Linked DNA regions of Homo sapiens. The protein of the gene in region 1 purifies or fractionates together with the protein of each later gene. This does not show direct contact. Each region holds a gene or a part of one and is shown on either strand. Other genes may lie near its edges. The genes, in order: TM4SF20 and HSDL1.

Region 1 (11,921 bases):
TCATAGTGATATCTCAGCCACGCATGTGGACAGTCGGGTTTTTTGCCATCACTATCATTCCTGACTCTGAGTGTATATGCTGCCAATAAACAGTCATTTTTTCTTAACACTTTTTCACACATAAATACTTAACATTAAAAAATGACACACTATTAATACAGTGAAAAAACTGCGTTCAAGTAACTAAGCAGCACAGGGGCATCACCAGATACTGCACCAGCTGTTAGACAACAGCCACAACCAAGAACAGCCACGGCAAGTTTCCTGTCCCCACTGGCGGTACTGTTGGAGTAAAGATTACTGGACACTATTTTTTTCAGTGAGAAGAAACATGAGAAGCAGTTGAGAGGCTAGGAAGTGGATCCTGTGGAGACGAGGCATTCTTCTCAGTGGCTTTTTAAAGTATTTCTTCCAGAGTCATCTACCTCATGAACAATGTTTTTGTCTGAGAAACCTCTCTTTGCTTTTATAAACTGACGTGATTTCTTGTTCTGTTTTGAATACACACTGCTCTAGTCCTTCAAGAAGCCCATCACGTATTTTCACCATATAATCTGTAGGCACTTTTTCTGCAATGTTAATGTCTTCACTATTAGGATCACCTTTGATTCAGAACCGTTCAGCTATTTCACCATGGGTTGATGAACAACTGGAGACCCATCATCGATGTTAAAAACTTCAACATCCACTTCTTCCAGCTTACTGACGGACTCTGAAGGTATATTTTTTACATATATAAGGAGGTCAGACATCATTTTTTTTTCTCACTTGACATAGGGATTCCTTCCAAGTCACCACCTTGTTTATCATCATCACTGAACATAGTTGCAGGCCAGAGGTTGTGCTGGACATTCAGAACTGTGTCTTTAGTCACCGTGTTCTAGTTGTTGGCAACAGCATATGGCATCCTTCATGCTAAACTTGTTTTGGAAACCTTCTGTGCCATGCCCTGTTCACTGCTGCTAACATGCTATTCCAATAAAGTTTTTATATTTACTCATTGATGTAAGGATACTCTGGTCACTGGCTGAATTAATGAAGTCACATTTTGGGGAAAGTACATGGCATAAATATTTTGGGGGGTGATGAGAAAATTTGTAAGCACCATTGCTGACCCTTGTTCACTAGAGTACAGTGAGCTGTCTTATTTTTGTTTTAATTACATGACCATTAGCAGTTTGACAGTTCATTGAGTAAGTATCGAGTCTTCGCTAAAAGCTGAGTACTGAAGATAGGATTCATTAATTCATTCAACTAAATGCAATGTTTCTGCTTTGTACCAGGCACTGTACTAAGTACTCTTTATACCAGGAGGGAATAAACATGTTCCTGTACCCCTGGAGCTTATAGTCTAATGGGGGACAGTGAAATTTAAGAAGCAAGCACAAAGGAAAATGCAATCATCATTGTGATAAATGCTGTAAATGAAAGCATGGTAAAAGAGTAAAGGGAAACCTAGTTTTCATTAGACGTTTAGGAATAGCCTCTCAGAAAAAGTGGTATTTGTGCTGAAGTCAAGGATAAAGAGTGCTGCCAGAGATAAGGCAGGTGGGGGTAGGAATGGGGCTGGAGGTGGGGAAATGAGAGGCGTTGCTAAGGACCTGAAGAGGTGAGGGCTGATGAACGTGGTTCCTGTGCTCCTGAATACTATAGTGATGGACGTACAAACACATGTATGTTACATTATGACAGGAATGATAATAGAGGCTTGGGTAAGTGCTGACTTGGTTTATTGGATCATGAGCACTGGGAAGGCTTCCTCAAGTAGGAGATACTTAAGCTAGGCCTTAAGGACAAGTAAGTATTTGTAGGGGTGTAGGAAGAATGTTTTTATATAGTAAATGTTCAGAAAAAAGGCTTATAAGCTCTTGATGTTACTAAATTTATTTAGGCAGCTATAATGTAGGTACTGCAAATTATTTCTGGAACCTTAAGCCCAATGAACATAAACAATTGAAATATAGAAATAACATTCAGAAAATTTTAGATTTTTAGCTTTGCTGTTTTACAACATTTTAATGTGATAAATACCCTTGTTATCCTGTTTTTTAAAGATTGGCACATATAGAAAATAGCTTTTGAAAGTCTTGGGTTTTTCTAGGTATTGTTTTTTAATTAATGAATAATGTAAACATAGGAAAATAGGAGGGTATAATGAATTGCCATGTACCTGTCACCTAAATATAACAGTAAACATCTCCCCGTTGCTTTTGGTTGAAGTAATTTTAAAACATATAAATATGCATTTCTTTTTTTAAAAATGAGGACATTTCTGTATACAGGTTGAGCATCACTAATCCAAAAATTCAAAATCCAGAATGCTCCGAGATCCAAAACTTTTTGAGCCAGTAACGTAACACCACAAGTGGAAAATTCCATACCTGACCTCATGTGATGAGTTGCAGTCAAAATGCAGTCAAAATTGTGTTTCATGCACAAAGTTATTTAAAATATTGTGTGAAATTACCTTCAGGCCAGGTGTTCAAAGTGTGTATGAGACATAAATGAATTTTGTGGTTAGACTTGCATCCCATCCCCAAGATGTCTCATTATTATAGGCAAAATTCCAAAATCCAAAAAAATGTGAAAGCCAAAACACTTCTGATCTTAATCATTTTGGATAAGGGGTACTCAGCCTTTATACTATAAAACCATTATCAGACCTACCAAAATTAACAATAATCCGATTCTTCTACATACTCCTCCCAATTATCTCTGACAAAGTTTACATGTGTTTAGCTGAAACATGCCTCTATTCTCTTAATCTATAACAGTTCCCTCAAAAATATTTTTCTTTTATAACATTTTCCTGTTGAAAATTGGGCCATTCTGTGCCCGCTGACCCACTTTTTGGATTTGTCCTAGTGTTCCCTGCAAGCTGAGAATTAGATCTAAAGACTTGATTGCATTCAGGTTATGTATTTATTCTTTAAAGAAATACAATAAAAAGGTCCTGTCCTTTAGGCGCGATGGCTCATGCCTGTAATCGCAGCACTTTAGGAGGCTGAGGCAGGCAGATCACTTGAGTCCATGAGTTCGGGACCAGCCTGGGCAATATGGAAAACCCCCATCTCTACTAAAAATACAAAAATTAGCTTGGCATAGTGGCACGCACCTGTAGTCCCAGCTACTAGGGAGGCTGAGATGGGAGAATCACCTGAGCCCAGGAGGTTGAGGCTGCAGTAAGCTGAGATAGCACCACTGTACTACTGTACTCCAGCCTTTTTTGAGACCCTGTCTCAAAAAAAAAAAAAAAAAGTCCTGTACTTTTATTTTCAGGATGACTTCCGTTCCTTCTCATCCTCCTTCCCTTCTCCTTTCTCTACACACAGTGAAGAGGTAAAAAATTTGAATAGTACAACACAAAACTAATTGAAAATTCTCTCCACCTTTCCCAAATCAACCACTGATATGAGAGTGTTATGCATTTACAACGTGCTTTCTACGTGAAGGGTTGATTTTTTAAATCATCTCAAAGATGACTTTGAAAACAAGTGTACTTCTCAAATTAATTCAAACTACTGATACTTACATTTTATTCCCATTAAACTACACAATTTGACTTCTTCGCTTAGAGACTCCACACAGACAGCCAAGGAAACCGATGACTATCTGACTGAGCCCAAACAGGACCTCCAGAATTCCAACAAGCAATAGACCTAAAAATACTGAGAAGTGGATAAGCCTATGTTTGTTTTCTTCAGAATCGAAGTGGAAACTAGATGCTCTCCAGCCACTCGCCATGGTGTCGTTACTGGTGGGTTTATTGAAACCAGTAGGAGGTGCACAAGAGTCATTGAAAAACCACTGCAAGTTGAAGGATTCTGGATGAATGTCACTGAAAAACAAAAGATAAAAATCAGATATTCAGAAATATCCCTGACCAAAGGAAAGTAGCATTGTGCACATAAAAGAATGAGTGAAACGAATGTACTTTTGAAATATCGTGCCCAGAAATGACAGAGATCAGGGTTTCTGAGCATGTGTCCATATACTCTACTAGTTACAAAACTTTTATTACTTATATAGCCCATCATTTAACAAGCATCTCTATGGTACATCTTCTCTTAGGTTGAACGGTATGAAACTGCTGTTTTGGGATGTCAGAAATAGTTGAATGTCAACAGTTTTTCGTGGTTCAACCTATTTATTTTATTTATTCAGATACTCTTCTACTTGCTAGATATAAAAACTAAGGAGCCTCCCCTACCCCCCGCCACCCCCATTAAATGAGCTCAGTTCTTAGTGCAGAACTACAGCGTGGCGTCCGTTCTTCAACCAGATGTACAGTTTTTACTGATTAAATATGTCTGATTAAAGTGATGTGCCTGTTCTTAACGGGGCTGTGGAAAATGAGAAACTTTTAGCCCTAATACATCTATCTCAAGATGATTTTTTGTTTGTTTACTGTAGAGTAAAATGGAATGTTCTTAGGGAGTTTGCATTGCTGGATATCAGCAACTGACATTCAACCTGGGAAAACAACAGTATTTTCAGCACATGGAATATGAGTGTTTTGTGAAATGTGTAGCAAGCCAAGGATCACTCTCTTGTAACTTTGCTAGCCTAGCCCATCTCCGCAACTAGGCTGAGAATATCTGAGCGCTGTTGTCTGCAGAGCGTAGCCTGGTGCCTGGTACATTGTGGGCTGTTGTCATTCCCTGGGGATTTAATGTGCATAGCATCTGTGGTAGAAATCTTTAACCCTTTACTTCAAGTCTATTAGCAAGGAGACTTTCCTTGGCTTTGTTTTTGAGACACAGTCTCACTCTGTCACCCAGACTGGAGTGCAGTGGCTTGATCTTGGCTCACTGCAACCTCCGCCTCCTGGGTTCCAGCAATTCTCCCGCCTCAGCCTCCTGAGTAGCTGGGACTAGAGGCGCGTGCCACCACGCCTGGCTCATTTTTGTATTTTCAGTAGTGATGCAGTTTCACCATGTTGACCAGGCTGATCTCAAACTCCTGACCTCAAGCGATCCACCTGCCTTGGTCTCCCAAAGTGCTGGGATTACAGGCGTGAGCCGCTGTGCCTGGCCTTCCTTGGGTTTTGGTTCAAAACAAATATGCTACACAAAATTTGAGGGACTTTCTTTTTTAATGTAGCAAGGTAAGGGAAAAGGAGAAAAAATTTTTTGTATGTAACTACAAAAGTAAATTCTGGTTATTTGCTAAACTGAGCAGGCTATACAGAGAGGTAATGGATTAGATAGTTTTTTTCTTCCAGTTTTTACAAATTGTGTCTAGATTCAGTCACAGAATGATGTACTTAAAAGACTAAAATGAGCCACTTATTAAGTACATGTAACTCTCCAGTATTACTTGTTATTACATGACTTAAAATTTGGATTCATTCCCATGCATACAGTATATTTATAGCATATCTGTATGAATCCATTGGTTGCTCTTCCATTTAAGCCTACAGGCAAGGCTCTGCATTTTATTTATTGTGTTTTTATTAAATTTTTTAAATTGTAAATGTAATATTTGCTCATGGTTGACAAATTTAATTAGTTCAGAAGTGTAGAAAGTAAATGTTCTCTTCACTCTCATAAAGGGAATCCCCTATTTCCATTCTCCAAGGATGAAAGTTAAGTTTCTGGTGTATATTTGCATAATTTTTTAATATACATACACATATGTAACTGTAGATTTTTGAAAGACAAGCATAAGCCATTTGAGATCAACTAGTCCTTTTAGACAATATCTAAAAGTCCTTTTAGAGCATTGTAAATCTAATGATTCCTCCATTTTGATGTGGAGTTGTGCTAACTGGCGTTAATGTACTAAAATTCCTAAGAATCCGTTTGTCCCGGCAGTTGCATCAAATAAAAACATGGCATTGTTCCAGTACTGCATTAATCTAATCAAACTAGTTCAACTGTGTGAGACAGTAAGCCTGTGAAAATCAAGTTACTTACCTGATGTTTTTCAATGAAAATTCACAATTGGCATTACTGTTGCTTGGAGAATTACACATGAGAGGACCTTTTAAGAGAGCCTGGATGGATATCAGCATGCAATACAGAGCACCAATGACTGTGATCACACTGAAAAGTGATGAAAGAAACATCTGAAAAATAAAATAGAGCCATTTGCACATGTTATGACATGTTCTTGATCTGTTTCAAGCTTCAGGAGCGTATACAGTCTTTTTTAAATCCAGTCGCCCTAAAATCCTGGATCTTAAGATCACAGTTTATTAGGTGTGAATGATACAAAAAGGCAGAGGGCAGTCTCTGCTATTTGATTACACTCAATAAAAGATGGTTGGGGCTGGGCATGGTGGCTCACACCTGTAATCTCAGCACTGTGGGAGGCCAAGGTGGGTGGATCACCTGAGGTCAGGAGTTCAAGACCAGCCTGGCCAACATGGCAAAACCCCCTCTCTACTAAAAATACAAAAACTTAGCCAGGCTTGGTGGTGGATGCCTGTGATCCCAGCTACTTGGGAGGCTAAGGCAGGAGAATCGCTTGAACCCGGGAGGCAGTCATCCGAGATCGTGCCATTGCACTCCTGCTGGGTGACAGAGCAAGACTCTGTCAAAAAAAAAAAAAAAAAAAAAAAAAAAAAAAAAAAAAAAAGATGGTTTGGCTTGTCACTGTCTCTGGAAAATCTCAACTTTCATATTCCTGAGTCTCATCTGTTTCTTCTGACCACTGAGATCTAGTTCCTCCCTGTTTTATGTACTTCCTACTTCATAGAATCTTGACTGGATCTTAACTACGTTTATCTTCATGTCTGGTCTCTTGGCTCGCAAGCGTTTGGCCCTGATGCTTTAAGTGAATTTGGCCCTGATGCTTTAAGTGGCCAGTGGCCAGCATCCCACAGTGATCAGTCAACAGCATAGAGTTAGAACAGGACTTCCCAACCTCAGCACCAATGACATTTGCACACTTCGCTGTGGGGCCTTTCCTGTGCAGTGTAGGATATTTAGCAACATCACTCATCTCTACCCACTAGATGCCAATATCATCCCCCGACGCCTTGCCACCTCCAGCCCGGTTCTGACAACCAAAAATGTCTCCAGGCATTGCCAAATATCCTCTTGGGGTGGAGGTGGGTGGGTAAAATAACCCGCCGGTTGAGAGCCACTGTGTTAGAAAGATTGTACACATCTTTATTTCGTGAGTCAGTCATGAGAGCAGAAGAAGGCATGGAATTTGGCATAGGAAACTGAATGAAAGTTCGTGTTTGTTTTTCCAAAAATAAGCTCTTAGGCCAGGCACAGTGGCTCATGCCTGTAGTCCCAGCACTTTGGGAGGCCAAGGAGGGTAGATTGCTTGAGCCCAGGAGTTCGAGACTAGCCTGGGCAACGTAGTAAGAGCCCATCTCTAAAAGAAAAAAAAAAGAAGGAAACTTTTGTATTGTTTCAGTGAAGTTGTTAGTCACTGATGATTATTTCAAAATCAGCAGAAATGAAGCGAGGGAATGCTTTTCCTTTTTCTTTGCTGGGATAATGCAGCTCCCACAGGGTCTGTGTGTTGTGTTCTTGAGACCTGCCTTTTATGAGTGCAGAATAAGGTGGCTACCTATAGAGTTGTGTTGAGGGATGTTGTGCTCTACATATATCATCTCATTTAATTCTTTTCATAATCCCAAGAGGTAGATACTATTATTATTTCCATTTTATAGATGAGAAAACTGTGTATCATGGAGATGGACAAAACTTGTCAGGCTCTCACAGCTGGGAAACACTTTAATCACTATTCTTCTTCCAGCCAAAAGTTCAGAATGATGGATTTGGAGTCTACTTCAAATCCTGATTCTTCCATGCTACTGTGACTTGTGCAGTTACTTAAATGTACTCATCAAGAAGTGCCATGGTGTTTATTTTTAACCATCTATTTTTTTTTTTTTTTTTTTTTGGAGACGGAGTCTCGCTGTGTCGCCCAGGCTGGAGTGCAGTGGCATGATCTCGGCTCACTGCAAGCTCCGCCTCCCGGGTTCACGCCATTCTCCTGCCTCAGCCTCCTGAGTAGCTGGGACTACAGGCACCCGCCACCACGCCCGGCTAATTTTTTGTATTTTTAGTAGAGATGGGGTTTCACCCTGTTAACCAGGATGGTCTCCATCTCCTGACCTTGTGATCCGCCCGCCTCAGCCTCCCAAAGTGCTGGGATTACAGGCGTGAGCCACCACGCCTGGCCGCCATCTATTATTTATATATATATATATATATAATTTTTTGTTTTTGAGACGGAGCCTTTCTTTGTTTCCCAGGATAGAGTGCAGTGGCGCTATCTGGGCTCACTGTAACCTCTGCCTCCTGGGTTCAAGAAATTCTCCTGCCTCAGCCTCCCAAGTAGCTGGGATTACAGATGCCCGCCACTACACCTGGCTAATTTTTTTATTTTTATTTTTTGTATTTTTAGTAGAGACAGGGTTTCACCATATTGGCCAGGCTGGTTTCAAACTCCTGAACTCAAGTGATCCGCCCACCTCAGCCTCCCAAAGTGCTGGGATTGCAGGCGTGAGCCACCGCACCCAGCCATATTATCTTTGAGTTCTCATCCCTACAAAAGGCCTGGCTTTAGAAAGTGATTCCAGGCATGTGTATTTCCCCTAAAGGGGATTCACTTAAATGATTCAGCAAAACCATTTTGTATTCAGAAGCAAAAATAAGAACTGGAAAAAGGGAAGAAGCAAAGAACAGTTAAAATAGGGGACAAGCCTTGGTCAACCCTTTCCCTTCCTCCCAAGATGTTGCCTTTGCCACTTGTCTCATGTTTTGGTCTTATCTAGGCCTCAAAGACACCAGATACGACATAAAAACCAGTTCTTAGAGGATACACCTATCGGAAAAGCCTATATAAGTGTTTTGATATTTTTGATTTCAGGAATTCAGAAATGTCTCAGGATGTCAAGAATGTTGTGAACACCACATAGAAAAGATACAAAGTCAAATTCCAAATTATTATCGTTTACAAAGAAAAGTGACAGGGAAGGGAAACTGAAAATTAGTGTTTATTGAATACCTAAAATGTATTCAGACAAAAATAGACTAGAACTAATTAGCATAATTATTGTAATCCTAGATAAATATCAAATGTCAGAAAAAGGGTAATTTTTAAAAATATGAATCTTCCATTATGGATAGAAATATCTGGTTTGTTTTTTTTAAGTAGTGGTTCTAACCCCTGGCCAAATTATCTTGAGTGCTTTTGAAAAATACTGATGCAGAATCTCTGGCGGCCACCCAGGCACTGGTATTTTTTTAAATCTCTTTAGATAATTCTAATATCCCCATCTGTCTTTTTTTTTTTTTTTTTTGAGAGAGTCTTACTCATCTGTTGCCCAGGCTGAAGTGCAGTGATGTGATCTCGGCTCACTGAAACCTTTGCCTCCTGGGTTCAAGAGATTCTCCTGCATCAACCTTCTGAGTATCTGGGATTACAGGCATGGGCCACCGTGCCCAGCTAATTTTTGTATTTTTAGTAGAGACGGGGTTTCACCATGTTGGCCAGGCTGGTCTTGAATTCTAGACCTCAAGTGATCCTCCCACCTCAGCCTCCCAAAGTGCTGTGAGCCACCGTGCCCAGCCTAATGTTCCCATCCATCTGAGAACCATTGCTCTGAAAGCTCAAGCTCAGCCAAGCAGATTTACTGTGACTGCTTGCTGTCAATCTACCCCTTCCACAGGGAATTGTGAGAGTCCTTATGTTGCTTAATAGCCATGTTCATGGTATAAAGATCATGAATTGTGGGGTGCTCCAGTGGGTTTGGATAAAAATCCACTTACTAGTGTGCTACACTGGCAAATTATTTACTTTCTCTGAGCGTCCATTCCTTCGTCAATCAAACACACTTCTTACTTTTTCCCACTTAAGGGTTTTGAGAGAATTAAATGAAACAGCATCTCTGAAAGTGTTCTGAGCAGAGTGACACTCCGGTTAATGAATCTTAATTTACTTTTAACTTCGTTACGACTTTATACATAGTGGGTAGGCATTAAATGTTTTGGGGGAAAAAAACCTGGCAGCTCCTTTAATTTAACTGGATAAAGGCAATTGTCATTCTAATCCTAGCAAACCAGTCTGTCATTGCATGAGAGAACTGAGTACATTTTCCCTGAGTATTTTATATACGCCACAAAAATATCACACCCGAGTATTATGAAATTGATTGCAGCTGTGGGCGTGACTTACCAATCTCCTTTCTTTGAAAACCTTTAGATTGAGGAAAGGACAATCCACGGAAGACTGAGGAAGGGACAGAAGGCCAACTCTAAATGTTTGTGGGACAAAAAAACCCGTCTCACTTTTTCTACTTCTATATAATCATCCTAAATAGCATGTTTCAGGCCAGGCGCAGTGGCTCAAACCTGTAATCCCAGCACTTTGGGAGGCCGAGGCGAGCAGATCACTCGAGGTCAGGAGTTTGAGACCAGCCTGACCAACATGTTGAAACCCCCATCTCTACTAAAAATACAAAAATTAGCTGGGCGTGATGGTGTGCACCTGTAGTCCCAGCTATTCAGGAGGCTGAGGCAGGAGAATTGCTTGATCCCGGGAGGCAGAAGTTTCAGTGAACCGAGATCGCACCACTGCACTCCAGTCTCAGCAACAGAGCAAGACCCTGTCTCTAAATAAATAAATAAAAATAGCATGTTTCTAAGGCTGTGGCTCTGTCAGTGGAGCCCCACTGTGATTCGGTAGATGCGAGTGACTCAGTGTGGCTTTGCTTAGGTAGCAATAACTGTTCATGCACTTCTGCTTCCACGCCGACTGCTTCATACTTACTCCAGTTCTGTTGTTGCAGCACGCTCTTTTTCTTGCTGTCAAGGACATTGTTGTTGCTGGAATGGCCTGGAAATGACATCAACAGGAAAGATGAGTATTATAACTTCTCATCAGAAGAAAAAATAGTAATCTTCACCTTCCGTTTACCACCAGTTGTGGGAAATCAAGGCTCAAAGAACAAAAAGGGAATTTGGCAATATCCGTGGTTTTGTGAACCTTGTCATCCCAGTTTCAACCAGAAAGATTAAAAGTGGCGGCGGGAACAGGGGAATTCAAGACAGGAGTTTTGAAGTCTTCTATCTACATTCTTAGTTCACTCTGAGTCATCTGCAGAGAATTGGATTTTAAATAGATTAGGATGACTTATTTATACATTATTTTTGGAAGAAATGTTTCTGAAAGAATTGGCTGCATCATCCAAACTCTGTTGTTTGTTTGTTTAAAGAGTAGGGGTCTCACTCTCTTACCCAGGCCAGAGTGCAGTGATACGAGCATAGCTCACTGTAGCCTTGAACTCCTGGGCTCAAATAATCCTCCTGCCTTAGCCTCCTGAGTAGCTAGGACCACAGGTGTAGACCACCACACCTGGCTAATTTTAAAAATATTTTTGTAGAAGCAAGATCTCACTCTGTTGCCCAGACTGGTCCTGAACTCCTGGCCTCAAGAAAACCTCCTGCCAAGAAAACTAAAGATGTGAGCCATTACGCCTGGCCCGATTTCCCAGAAATTGTATGGATTATTCTGGCAAACCTGCAGAAAAGAAATTGATGGTTTTGTTTGCCTGGCAGTTGGGAACAAATCATTCTGTCACCACCCACTCCCACTAGCCTTTCTTTTCCCAGGATCCCGGCTATCTTGCTGGTTTCCCCAAACTTATATTTGAGAATTATTTTTGGTTCCACGTTCTCCTTTCTCTTCCTATATCCATGATATGTAATGATCTCACTTTATATATTGATGCTCAGAAATCTATAGATCGCATTCTGCCTTCAGGGAAATACACGTTGCCAAGGAAAGCTGTAAGAAAGAACACCATATTCTCAGGACTTGGGTTTCAATTTTTAGTATATCTAGGCAGCAGCTACGACTAGAAATTCTTACTGGAAGGAGTTTTGTATCATTGAAGGGTGGAATGTAATTATTTCCTTCCGCTTGAGAAATTTTAGGCGTAGGTTTTTTTG
Region 2 (11,921 bases), on another chromosome or scaffold:
GGAAAAGTGAGCATGTGTATTTCACGGTGTGACCCTTAAAATGGACCCAAAGTACCCCCTGTCAGGTTTAGTCAGAGAAAAATTCACACTAGAAATCAAGTCGGTTCTAGTATCTACAAGTCAAGGACACTGTTGCTGAATGAGGAATGTGAAGGGCGCATGCTATACACTCTCCCAGACATCCTGACACACGGACAGGGAGTTATTTTACATTCACCATATTGGTTAGGAGACACAGTAGGAATTTGTTTTCAAACTACTATCTGGCTTGAATGAGTGGCAGGAGGTGCTTTTCTGGGAAATCTTCATAAATTAAAATGAAATTCAAAATAGGTGAAGCATTTCTGAAAGTGGCAACACTTTCAAGACAATTTTAAAACAGAGAACAAAAAGGAAAAGCACATAGTAGGAAGTGGGTCTGGAGGAGGACTGGGAACAGGAGAGAGCAGAATAGGAAGGATACCAATCATGAGGCCAGTTCTTCCTAAGATGAGAGCAGTAAGAAAATGAAATGTGAACATAATCACGGCAGGAGCCATAAGTTTTATTTTTTTATCAGCATGTTCCCATAAAAACACCACATTAAATTCAATAGCTCCTTGAATAATGCATCCGACTTCACAGAAAAGATTATTTTGATTATAAAGTAGGTTACCGCTGACAACGGCCCATCTTCCATACTGCTTGATCAAGTCTGCTCTGCTCCCCAGGCGGGGGATAAAATGCAGCCTGATCAGGCTGTAAAAGTCACAGATGACAGTGATGCTTTTTCTGGCCGTATACCAGGCTCCAACCAAAGCTAGAGCTTCCATATAGCAATTGCAAGACCTGGCGATTTCCCTGTACAAGAGGTAGAAACTGTCAACAGCAGCCATGGCAACCTGCAGGGAGAGGGAAAGAGAGAGAGCCTCTTTGATTAATAAATTAAAGGAACATACACAGTCTGAGTGAAGACATCCAGCTGAGGGCATCAGATCTTGTCAATTGTACGTTCAAATAACACTAACTTTTCAAATGTACGTGGCTCACAGTTTCAGTCTATCTATCTATCTATCTATCTATCTATCTATCTATCTATCTATCTATCAGACAGAGTCTCACCCTGTCGCCCAGGCTGGAGTGCAGTGGTGCGATTTTGGCTCACTGCAACCTCCACCTCCCGGGTTCAAGCGATTCTCCTGCCTCAGCCTCCCAAGTAGCTGGGACTACAGGCACATGCCACCACGCCCGGCTAATTTTTTTTTTTTTTTTTGAGACGGAGTCTCGCTGTCGCCCAGGCTGGAGTGCAGTGGCGCAATCTCGGCTCACTGCAGGCTCCGCCCCCTGGGGTTCACGCCATTCTCCTGCCTCAGCCTCCGGAGTAGCTGGGACTACAGGCGCCCGCCACCTCGCCCGGCTAATTTTTTGTATTTTTAGTAGAGACAGGGTTTCACCGCGTTAGCCAGGATGGTCTCAAACTCCTGACCTCAGGTGATCCGCCACCCTTGGCCTCCCAAAGTGCTGGGATTACAGGTGTGAGCCACCATGCCTGGAGATTCAGCCAATTTATGATCTCACCATTTAACATCCGTAGCTTATAAAGTTACTTTCTTCCAAGGAGACTAATCAACATAACTACCAGAAGTTACCAAATTCCCACTAAAATTCAGGTACTACACTACATGCTGTGGCTACAGAGATAAACACAATATGCTCTGTGCCTGTAACATGCTCCTAGTCTAATAATAACAAACACAAAGCTTCTAATTCATACAGCAGAGGTACATGTATTTCTTTGCTTTATTCATAATCAGCAAGAATGGAGGACCTACTACCTGTGTAGGGACAAAGGAGATGAAACAGAGGTGGCACTAAGACATGGCCTTGGCCTCAAAAGCTTACAATCCACTGGAGACAAAACTCAGCTTTCAAAAACCTTTACATCAATTAAAAAAAAAATTTTTTTTAAAGAGATACCCTCCAAGCTTGGAAAAATGGCTTCTCAAATGACAATAGAGGGAGCACTCCTCCATCTTCTAACTTAATTTGTAACCATTATGTTGCCTGGTCTCTTACATTTGAGGAAAGAAAAGTCCAACACAACTCTGTTGAGTGTCCACATAGCAAGTATATACTAAGCACCTACTATGTTCTATGTACTGTGATTCAAAGGATTCACAGATGAACTAAATGACCGTCCCTAGGTGAAGACGCAGACATTTAACAAAATAATGTAAAATGCCACATGATGTGGTAGGTGTGTGCCTGCAATCAGAGATAACCCTGCAGAAGTAGACAAAGGCCAGGCATGGGGGGTCTGGCCACAGACCGAGTGAGTGGACTTCATATCAGGCTAAACCAACCGTGTGCATCCTGCGAAAGACAAAATATCAAAACAACTGCAATAGACTACACTTATATTACAGGGAACTCAGATACACACAAACCCAAGGACACAGCTTATATTCTAAAAAGAACATGATTTTAAGCCAAAAGAAAAAGAAATATAAAACTTCTGGGGGTGGCAACTTTTGAAGAAATCCCTTTAAAATAGAAAAAAAAAAAAAAGTCTGGATACTAAGAAAATACCCAACAATAGCAGCACAAATTAGCCTAAGTTTGAGAAAGAATGGGGAATTCCCTCCTACTCCACTGCAGTGTAATCTGAGCTCAACAAAGTTTTGCAAAGTAAAAAAGGAACCAAGCAGAAGAAAACAAATGAACCACTGAAACGGAACACATACAAGAATGGCACCATATTGTGATAAAAGGCATATAAAATAATTTTAAAACTATTGAATAAATATATATAAATGTGTAGTGTGAATTACAAATCAACAAAACGTACACAAGAAATATGACTGAAAACTGAAGAAATGGAGAAGCAGTAGGATTCCTAAATGCCCTACGATAAGGAAACAATCTCTCTAAAAAAGAAAGTTTCATACTGGTACCGTATTAAGTTGATATTGCTGCTATATTAAGTTACCAAATTAAGCCAATGTGGCATTAAGTTTAAAAAATGTTTTCCTCAGCCGGGCGCGGTGGCTCATGCCTATAATCCCAGCACTTTGGGAGGCCAAGGCAGGTGGTCAGGAGTTCAAGACCAGTCTGGCCAAGATGGTGAAACCTCGTCTCTATTAAAAATACAAAAATTAGCTGGGCATGGTGGTGGGCACATGTAATCCCAGCTACTTGGGAGGCTGAGGCACAGAACTGCTTGAACCCGGGAGGAGGAAGTTACAGTGAGCCGAGATCATGCCACTGCGCTCCAGCCTGGGCGACAGAGTGAGACTCCATCTCGAAACAAACAAACAAAAAAGTTTTCCTCAAATGAAAAGTTGGGCCCCTTTATTCCCTACAGGTAAAATGCTGTCCACTGGGGCTCTGTGCACAGAAACTCACCTCCCACAATGAGAATGCCAAAGTTCATCATGAAAAGGAAACATTTTAAATTTGACTAAGTACATAAACCAAATACTTAAGCTAAAAACAACTAAAATAAATGCTCCTTTGGGGTAATTTTTCTTTATGAACCAGATTGGCTGAGATGACCTAAAATATGAGCTGTCTAGTTCAACAAAGTCTTTCTTTTTTCTGAGCAATCTTCCGTACAGCAGTCACCAATACCCCTTACTGCTCCCAAATCCTTTGATTGACAATCCTTTGAAATATATTCAAAGTTAGGGCCCCCCCTTCAGTGTAGCGAACGAGCATACCTGTTTCCAGATCTGCATGAGAGGAAGCCGCGCCACCACCCCTCCCACAACCCTCCTGCTGCTGGATATGCTGATGACGGGCACGGTATCAGAGTTTTCACACTGGCTGTAGCCCTTGAACAGTCATAAGTACTGGACTCCCAAAGACAGGCCCAAAACATTAATATCCTATAAGAACATTAAAAACTGACATTCCAGCCAGGGACGGTGGCTCACACCTGTAATCCCAGCACTTTGGGAGGCCGAGGTGGGCAGATCACTTGAGGTCAGGAGTTCAAGACCAGCCTGGCCAACATGGTGAAACCTGATCTCTACTAAAAACACAAAAATTAGCCGGGTATGGTGGTGACTGCCCAGCTTGGGTGGCTGAGGAAGGAGAATCACTTGAATCAAGCAGGCGGAAGTAACAGTGAGCCAAGATTGCACCACTGCACTCCAGCCTGGGCGACAGAGTTAGACTCCATCTCAAGAAAAACCCCAAAAAACAAACAAAAAAAACAACCGAGATTCTATGTTAGACCATCCTAAATTGTGAGTTCCGGAAATAACTCATAAAAAGTGTGGGTGCCTTTTGTCATAACTAATCAAACACAAGGCCATGAGGAAAGTAAATGCAAAAACAATTACCTGTATGTAATTACCTGTATGTACCAGGACCTCTCAAGCAAAATGTAATAAAATTGGGAATAACAAGCTATGACTAAAGAAACCTAGACACTTGGAATATTAAGCTTATTCTTCTAATAACAGGTAGGCATACATCTAGGCTGTTAAAACAGTGTTTTCAATGAAAAAATAGATACTACAGGCCAGCCACGGTGGCTCGCGCCTGTAGTCCCAGCACTTTGGGAGGCCGAGACGGGCGGATCACGAGGTCAGGAGATCAAAACCATCCTGGCCAACAGGGTGAAACCCTGTCTCTACTAAAAATACAAAAAATTAGCAGGGCGTGGTGGCGGGCACCTGTAGTCCCAGCTACTCAGGAGGCTGAGGCAGGAGAATGGCATGAACCGGGGAGGCAGAGCTTGCAGTGAGCCAAGATCGCGCCACTGCACTCCAGCCTGGACGACAGAGGGAGACTCCGTCTCAAAAAAGAAAAAAGAAAAAAAAAAAAAGAAAGAAAAAACAGATACTACATATCAAGATCAATGGGTTGTAGCCAAAGCAGTATTTGTGGGGAAATGAGTTGCTCCAAGCCTATAGAGTAAGGCTCTCGCTACAAAAAGGAGGTCAGGCATGCCTCATGGAGGAACCCACACAGATGGAAGCTTCCTCCTTAAGCCCGATTTTTTTCAAGAATCTGAACCTTTTTGAAGTAAATGTCTAGCAAAAGGCGCCTGACCACAAAGGGGGCCCCAGTTTTTCTGCTGTGGTCGTTCCCTGCCCTGGGGTCTCTTACCTTCTCTCTGCCAGTTCTGGGCCGTCAGCAGTATGTGGCTCCGTCCTTCTCTTAAGGCCAATCTGTGAATAAAACCAACAAGAAACAAATGCCTTTCCTCTTCCTCATAGTTCAGCTGGGAAAACTTTACATTAAAGTAACATCCAAGTGCTCAAAAATTAAGAAAACACAACAATTCTTACGCCATGAATCTCTGTAGAGGCAGCAAACCATGTACTAGGCACCAAGTACCCTCCTCTCAGAATAAGAAAAGCGCCTGGCGTCTGCTGGGGGCACAGTCCATGCGTCCTCAGGCACAGCTGGAGGGTGCCCCCTTTTCCTATGCCTTTTTTCCTAGGGAACATTTCATCAAATGGGACAAAAGCCCATTCCAATCCCAGGAGCCCTTGGGGAAACACCGCCCAGGCACCAGGCCGGCATCGGGGAAGAGAGCAGCCACAGCTGTCCTCGGTGCCTTTTTCTGCCTGGTGCCTGTCTGGGTTTCACCTGGGCCTCCCACTGCCTCACTCTGCACACCCCTTCTTCAGCTCCACCTGCAGCGTTCCCTGGAACATCCACATTGCCACGGGCTGCCCTGGCTTCTCTTTCCAAATTCCTGGCAGGGATTCTGGCTCGCCCACCTTAGTTCAGGTGCCCACCACCTGTCTAATCTCCTGGCAGGGTGGCAGGGAGGAAGGCGTCCTACAGTGTTTGGGGGCAGCCCCCCTAGGCTGTGAGTGGGTCAGATGCTTTAAGGAGGAAATGAAAGGAAACCCCTGGTCCACATTTTCCCTCTCCTCCACCACACACACTGCATTGCAACTGTTCTGTCTCTGACCACCCCAGCAGGCTATAGTCCTCCAGGGCAGAGGCCAGATTCTACTCCTCTCTGTTTCTCCAGCACCTTCCACAATTCCTGGCACAAAGAAGCTCAACACTACCAAGTCTCTGGCTGCAGCTCACAGGCAGTCTTCCTGTCCAGCGCTCAGCCCTCAGCTCAGGAGCGGACCACCCACAAATTCCTTTGATCCTTTACAGAAAGAAAAGCTTGTGTGCTAAACCCACCAGGGACCTCCCACTCAGGCCAGCAGAGGAGATGCACCCACTGCAGAGGTGAGTACAGGAACCTGGGGCTGAGGGGCTTCAAGCCCATCATGGCCCAGCTTCTCAACGCCCCCACTAGACACCCCTCACCTCTTGTCAGGGGAGCGCCATCGTGTGCAAGTACCTTAAACGTGTGTTAATATTATTGTTGCTATGTATATTTTAAAAATCACAGAGCATCAGGGGGGCTGATGGCATTCAAGGTCTGGTCCTCAGCCTTGATGGATAGAAACCCAAGTTCTTCATTCCTTAGAGGCAGCTCAAGACAAAGAAATCTGACTCACATCCACAAAACCCACAGAAGACTGATACATTCAAATGCCAAGTTAGGAATGGATAGTGAACAACACAGCGAAGAGGCCTAAACACACACGGTCACTGGTCCTACAGTCTCTCGAGATCTACATGGAAAACCAAACTTCTAGAACAGCAATGAAAAATACAAAGTGTCAGAGACTGAGGACACCATCATGAATAAACCAGGACTCCGTGCCACCCGGTATACACAGAAGTCAGAGAAAGATAAACGGAGCAACTGCAACATGAGGTGGCAAGGGCGCCACTGGGGTGAAATGGGTCTTGAAGTGTGAGCAGAATTTCTGGGCAGAGAGGAGGGAAGGGACCTCCCTGGCCCGGGCCCATGGAGAAAGGCTCGGCACCGTCAAGGGTCTGGCCTACTCGGGAAACATTAGGAAGTCCCCCGCATGCACAGCACAGGCTGTGCTGTCCTGTGTGACGCCCCATGTGTGCAGGCGCACAGGCGTGAAGGAGACTGGGAGAGGCAGACTGGAGATGCCTTCACGCCAGACTGGAGTGCATGGACCTCCTCCTTGAGCACCAAGGGAGGGAGCTGGTGGGGCTTGTTTAGGAAGGTAACGCAGCAGGGGAGGAGGGGGGCTCCTGAGCCCTGGTTACTCAGCTGGGGATGAAGGAGGGCCACACGGAGAGCCAAGGCTCTGTGGCCTCTGCTGCTCCTCAGCCTTGCCAGACACTTCACACATTCACTCACACCCTGATGGGCCAAAGATGTTAGAGAACTGGAAATTAAAACTCATTCCCTGCTCTCAATCTTCTTCCCCACCCTTCTGTACATGATGGAAAATAACATTTTTCTCATGACAAAAGAAATCAGTACTTTCCCCAGAGCCACCAAATTTCAAAAGCTCATAGCCTCTCACTGAAACTTTCAAAGGAATTTATCACACATTTAAGCCTAGAAGTCCACTTAGGCATATGTAGATAACAAGCCTCGTCAAAGTTACTTTAGGTATCTGACTAGTTACTGTTTTGTGGCTTGATTAGCGAAAGCTATTAACCTGTGCTACGGTCTGAGCGTTCCGCCCCACTCCCTGATTCTTGTCTTGAATCTTAACCCCCCAGGTGATGGTTTAGAAGGGAGGGCCTTTGGGAGGCGATCAGATAATGAGGGCTCCACCACCTTGATCTTGGACCATTCAGCCTCCCAAACTGCGAAAAGTAAGTGTTTGCTGTTTCCAAGCCACCCAGTTCATGGTATTTTGTTATAGCAGCTCAAAACCAACTAAGGCAGCCTGCAACCTAGAGAAACCCATGATGTGGAAAGCAATACTAAAACACAGTAAAATTCTGATTCATGTACAATCTACCTGCAAGAACTTATTCTAAAGCTTTATTTTCTTAAACAGAGAGTAGAATGGTGGTTGCTAGAGGTGGGGTCATGGGTGGGAAGTTTTGGTCAAAGGGGTATAAACTTTCAAATATAAAATGCATACGTCTGGAGAGCTAATGTACAGTACAGTGACCATAGTGAGCAATACCAAATTGTAGGCTTAAAATCTGCTTAGAGGGTAGATCTCAAGTGTTCTCACCATAAAGAAATAAAAAAGTAACTGAGGTGATGAATGTGTTAACTAATTTGGTTGTGGTGATCATTTCACAAAGTATACATATATCAAATCATGTTGTACACCTTAAATTTATATAATTTTATTTGTCAATTATACTTCGATGAAGTTGGAAAAATATAAAATAATTTAAAAAAATTTTTAAGCTTTGTTTTCTCATCTCTGCAGAAAACTAAAACATCTGTGAACAAAACAAAACCACAACTGTCCCCAAACTAGGAAAAGAAGAGCAAGTCCCTATTATCTTTTAAGCATTTTCTACTTCTACAGGGCAGGAGTCATCAAAAACCTACAGGAAACGTTACAACTACAAAAGCGTCACGGGACAATTATGGTCAAAACTGCAAGTAGCAAAGTCACCTCTTCAAAGCACCACTGCTGTGGCCTGTAACATGATCCCACTCCACAGTGAAGGGGACTCCACCTAGCAGTGTAAAGGGCAATCAACTCAAATAGAAAAACCTTCATGTACCAAGAGTTCTGGGAGGAAAGTCTTGGCTGAAACATGGACATTACCAAGCTATCCAAATGCGTGTGACGTGGGGCGGGTGGTGAAAGAACACAAGGCAGACTGGCCAGGGTTTTAAAGAAGACAAAGCAAGCAGGATGGAAAAAAAGACAATCAAAGCATTAGCGAACGACAGTGTGGTGGGCACAGTAATGGCCTCCAGGGATATCTACAGCCTAATCCCCAGACCCTGTAAATACGTCACCTTATGTGGCCAAAGGGACTCCGTAGATGTGACTGAGTTAAAGACTCCGAGCTGGGGAGGGTGGGTCCAATGTCATCATGTGTCCTTGTAAGGGGGGCAGGAAGATCAAAGAGAGAGAGCCATGTGACTACAAAGGGAGAGGTCAGAGAGAGCTCGAGTTGAGGGTGCTCTGTGCTGCTGGTTTCGATAATAGAGAGAGGGGTGGGTCACCAGTGAAGGACGGGGGGTGGCCTCTAGAAGCTGGCAGAGGCAAGGAAAAGGATTCTCCCCTGGAGCCTCCAGAGGAACACAGCCCTGCTGACACCTTGACTTTAGCGCAGTCACAATGACTTCAGATTCCCATCTCCAGAAGGAAGAGACATCTGTGTCATTTTAAGCCACTACCTTTGTGGCAATTTGTTACATCAGCCACAGGGGATAAGGATAAACAGTGGGAGGAAGGGATGGATGAACAGTCAGTTCAGCTTTCAGGACAGCGAAGAGACAAGCTGAAAACTCTGCAACCTCCCTTAAGCCAAAACCACTATGTGTATTCAGGAGCCAGAAAGTCTCAGAGGTTCCTGCCATCTTTGACTGACCAGGGTAGACCTGAGGTCCTCCTCCTCACCAGCTGGGATTATCCAGCTTTTCAGTAAGGCTCCAGGGCGATGGCTGTTTTCATTGATGAAAACATTTTTCCAAATAAATCTTAATTTTTTCAGAGTGTGAATCTGTCTTGTGCTCAGTACTCCAAATCCTCTGTTCTTCCTGACGTTTCAAGTCCCATGTCTTCTCCTCCGTTCAATCACTTCCTAACAAGCACCAACAACATGTCAGCCCTGGGGAGAAACTTCCCTTCCTGTCCCTTCCCTTCCCAGGCCGTGGCACTGCCCCCACCTCTGAATTCCTCTCCACCTCTCTTACCCATGTGGCACTTAGCACACACTGCTTTGGATTCTATTTAAACACTCAACTTGCTTATATCTTGGTTTCTTGGTTGTCCAAGGAGAGCACAGGCCTCTGGAGGGCAGGAGATGTATAGAAAACGAATTTTTCTGTAACTAAAAGAAATTTTTGTTTTTAGGCCGAGTCTTGTTCTGTCTTCCAGGCTGGAGTGCAATGGTGCAATTTCTGCTCACTGCAACCTCCGCCTCCTGGGTTCAAGCGTTTCTCCTGCCTCAGCCTCCCGAGTAGCTGGGACTACAGGTGCCCTCCACCATGCCCAGCTAATTTTTGTATTTTTAGTAGAGATGGGGTTTCATCATGGTGGTCAGGCTGGTCTTGAACTCCTGACCTCAAGTGATCCACCCACCTCGGCCTCCCAAAGTGCTGGGATTACAGGCGTGAGCCACTGCACCTGGCAAAAATGTTTAAATATATACAAAAGTATGTAAAACCTATTATGCACAGTTCAAAGAATAATAAAACAGCCACTTAGCCACCAGCCTACTTAACAAAACCAGTGTCGTGGAAGTCCTGTATGCTGTTCCTCTGATTACAGCCCCTCCTCTATCCTGGAGGCAGCCTCTCTCCTAAATTCTGGGGTAGTCACTCCCTGACTCTTTTAACAAAACAGCTGTATACCCCAAGCATGTATTCTGAAACAGTAACAGTATTGCTGGCCGGGCGCGGTGGCTCACGCCTGTAATCCCAGCACTTTGGGAGGCCGAGGCGGGCGGATCACGAGGTCAGGAGATCGAGACCACGGTGAAACCCCGTCTCTACTAAAAATACAAAAAATTAGCCGGGCGCAGTGGTGGGCGCCTGTAGTCCCAGCTACTCGGGAGGCTGAGGCAGGAGAATGGCGTGAACCCGGAAGGCGGAGCTTGCAGTGAGCGGAGATCGCGCCACAGCACTCCCGCCTGGGCGACAGAACGAGACTCCGTCTCAAACAAAAAAAAAAACAGTATTGCTAAGTTTCGCCTGGTTTTGAACCTCACATAAAGGAACCACACCACATGGACCCTTTGGTGACTTGTTTCTTTCACTCAACATCATTCCCGAGACTCATCCATGCCCCTGCAGCTATATAGTCCATCCTCCTCGGCAGCTGCACAGTATCTCACGGTTCAGATGCACTGCAGTTCACAGGTCCCCCTGCTGCTGGTTCAGATACACCACGATTCACAGGTCCCCCTGCTGCTGGTTCAGATACACCACGATTCACAGGTCCCCCTGCTGCTGGTTCAGATACACCACGATTCACAGGTCCCCCTGCTGCTGGTGCTAGGCACGTGCACTGTTTCTGCTGGTTTTGATTTACAGTTAGGAACAGTGCTGCAGGGAGCGCTTGTCCCCATCTCCTGCACACCTGTGCAAGAGTTCGCAAAGGGATTTGCCCATGGTTTAACTGCTGGTCCACATGCATTCCACTGCCAAATGCTTTTGCAAAGCGGCAGAACCCATTCACACTCCCGCCAGCAGCAGGTTCGTGCCACTCCTCAATGTCACTGGCTGGTAGCGTCCAAAGCTTCACCTTCTGCCAACAGGGTGGCTGTGAAATGGTATCTCATTATGGTTTTAATTTACATTTCCCTGGTTACTAGTAAGGCTGCAGTCCTTTTTATATGTATGTGCTTTCTGTGTTTTGTAATCTATGAAATGCCCGTTCCTATCTTTTGTCCTTTCCTTTTTTTTCTCTCAGAATTGTAAGAATTCTTTAAATATTCTAGATACTAGCTCTCTGTATGTTTTGTGTCTCATTATAGTGTCTTTCATGAACTAAATGTGTTGTTATTATTATTGAGACAAGGTCTGGCTCTATTGCCCAGCCTGATGTGCAGTGGCATGATCACAGCTCACTGCAACCTCCGCCTTCCGGGCTCAAGCCATCCTCCCACCTCAGCATCTCAAGTAGCTGGGACACAGGCATGTACCACCAAGCCCAGTTAAATTTTTTTTGTGTGTGTAGAGATGAGGTTTCACCATGTTGCCCAGGCTGGTCTCAAACTCGTAAGCTCAAACCATTCACCTGCCTTGGCCTCCCAAAGTGCTGGGATTACAGGTGGGAGCCACTGCACCTGGCTGAATGTCTTAATTTTGAAAGAGACAAATATATCAATCTTTCTGCTTTAGGGTTTGTTTTATTTCAGAAATCCCTCCTTAGCCTCAGGTCATGAAGAAATTTTTTCGAATTATTTTCTAGAAATTTTACATTTTTGCTTTT

Evidence for each region.
Region 2: the proteins of TM4SF20 (region 1) and HSDL1 purify together in Homo sapiens (affinity purification with mass spectrometry; 3 studies listed by BioGRID and IntAct, with this or other methods). This does not show direct contact.

Annotation. Positions count from the first base shown.
Region 1 is NC_000002.12:227,360,175-227,372,095, forward strand, and holds the end of TM4SF20 (transmembrane 4 L6 family member 20), read right to left. Parts: intron 10,807-11,921; coding exon 10,741-10,806; intron 6,071-10,740; coding exon 5,919-6,070; intron 3,839-5,918; coding exon 3,550-3,838; 3' UTR 1,864-3,549; downstream 1-1,863. UniProt on the Homo sapiens protein: Polytopic transmembrane protein that inhibits regulated intramembrane proteolysis (RIP) of CREB3L1, inhibiting its activation and the induction of collagen synthesis.
Region 2 is NC_000016.10:84,130,447-84,142,367, forward strand, and holds part of HSDL1 (inactive hydroxysteroid dehydrogenase-like protein 1), read right to left. Parts: intron 9,812-11,921; exon of another isoform or gene 8,777-9,811; intron 5,160-8,776; 5' UTR 5,098-5,159; intron 882-5,097; 5' UTR 876-881; coding exon 656-875; intron 1-655.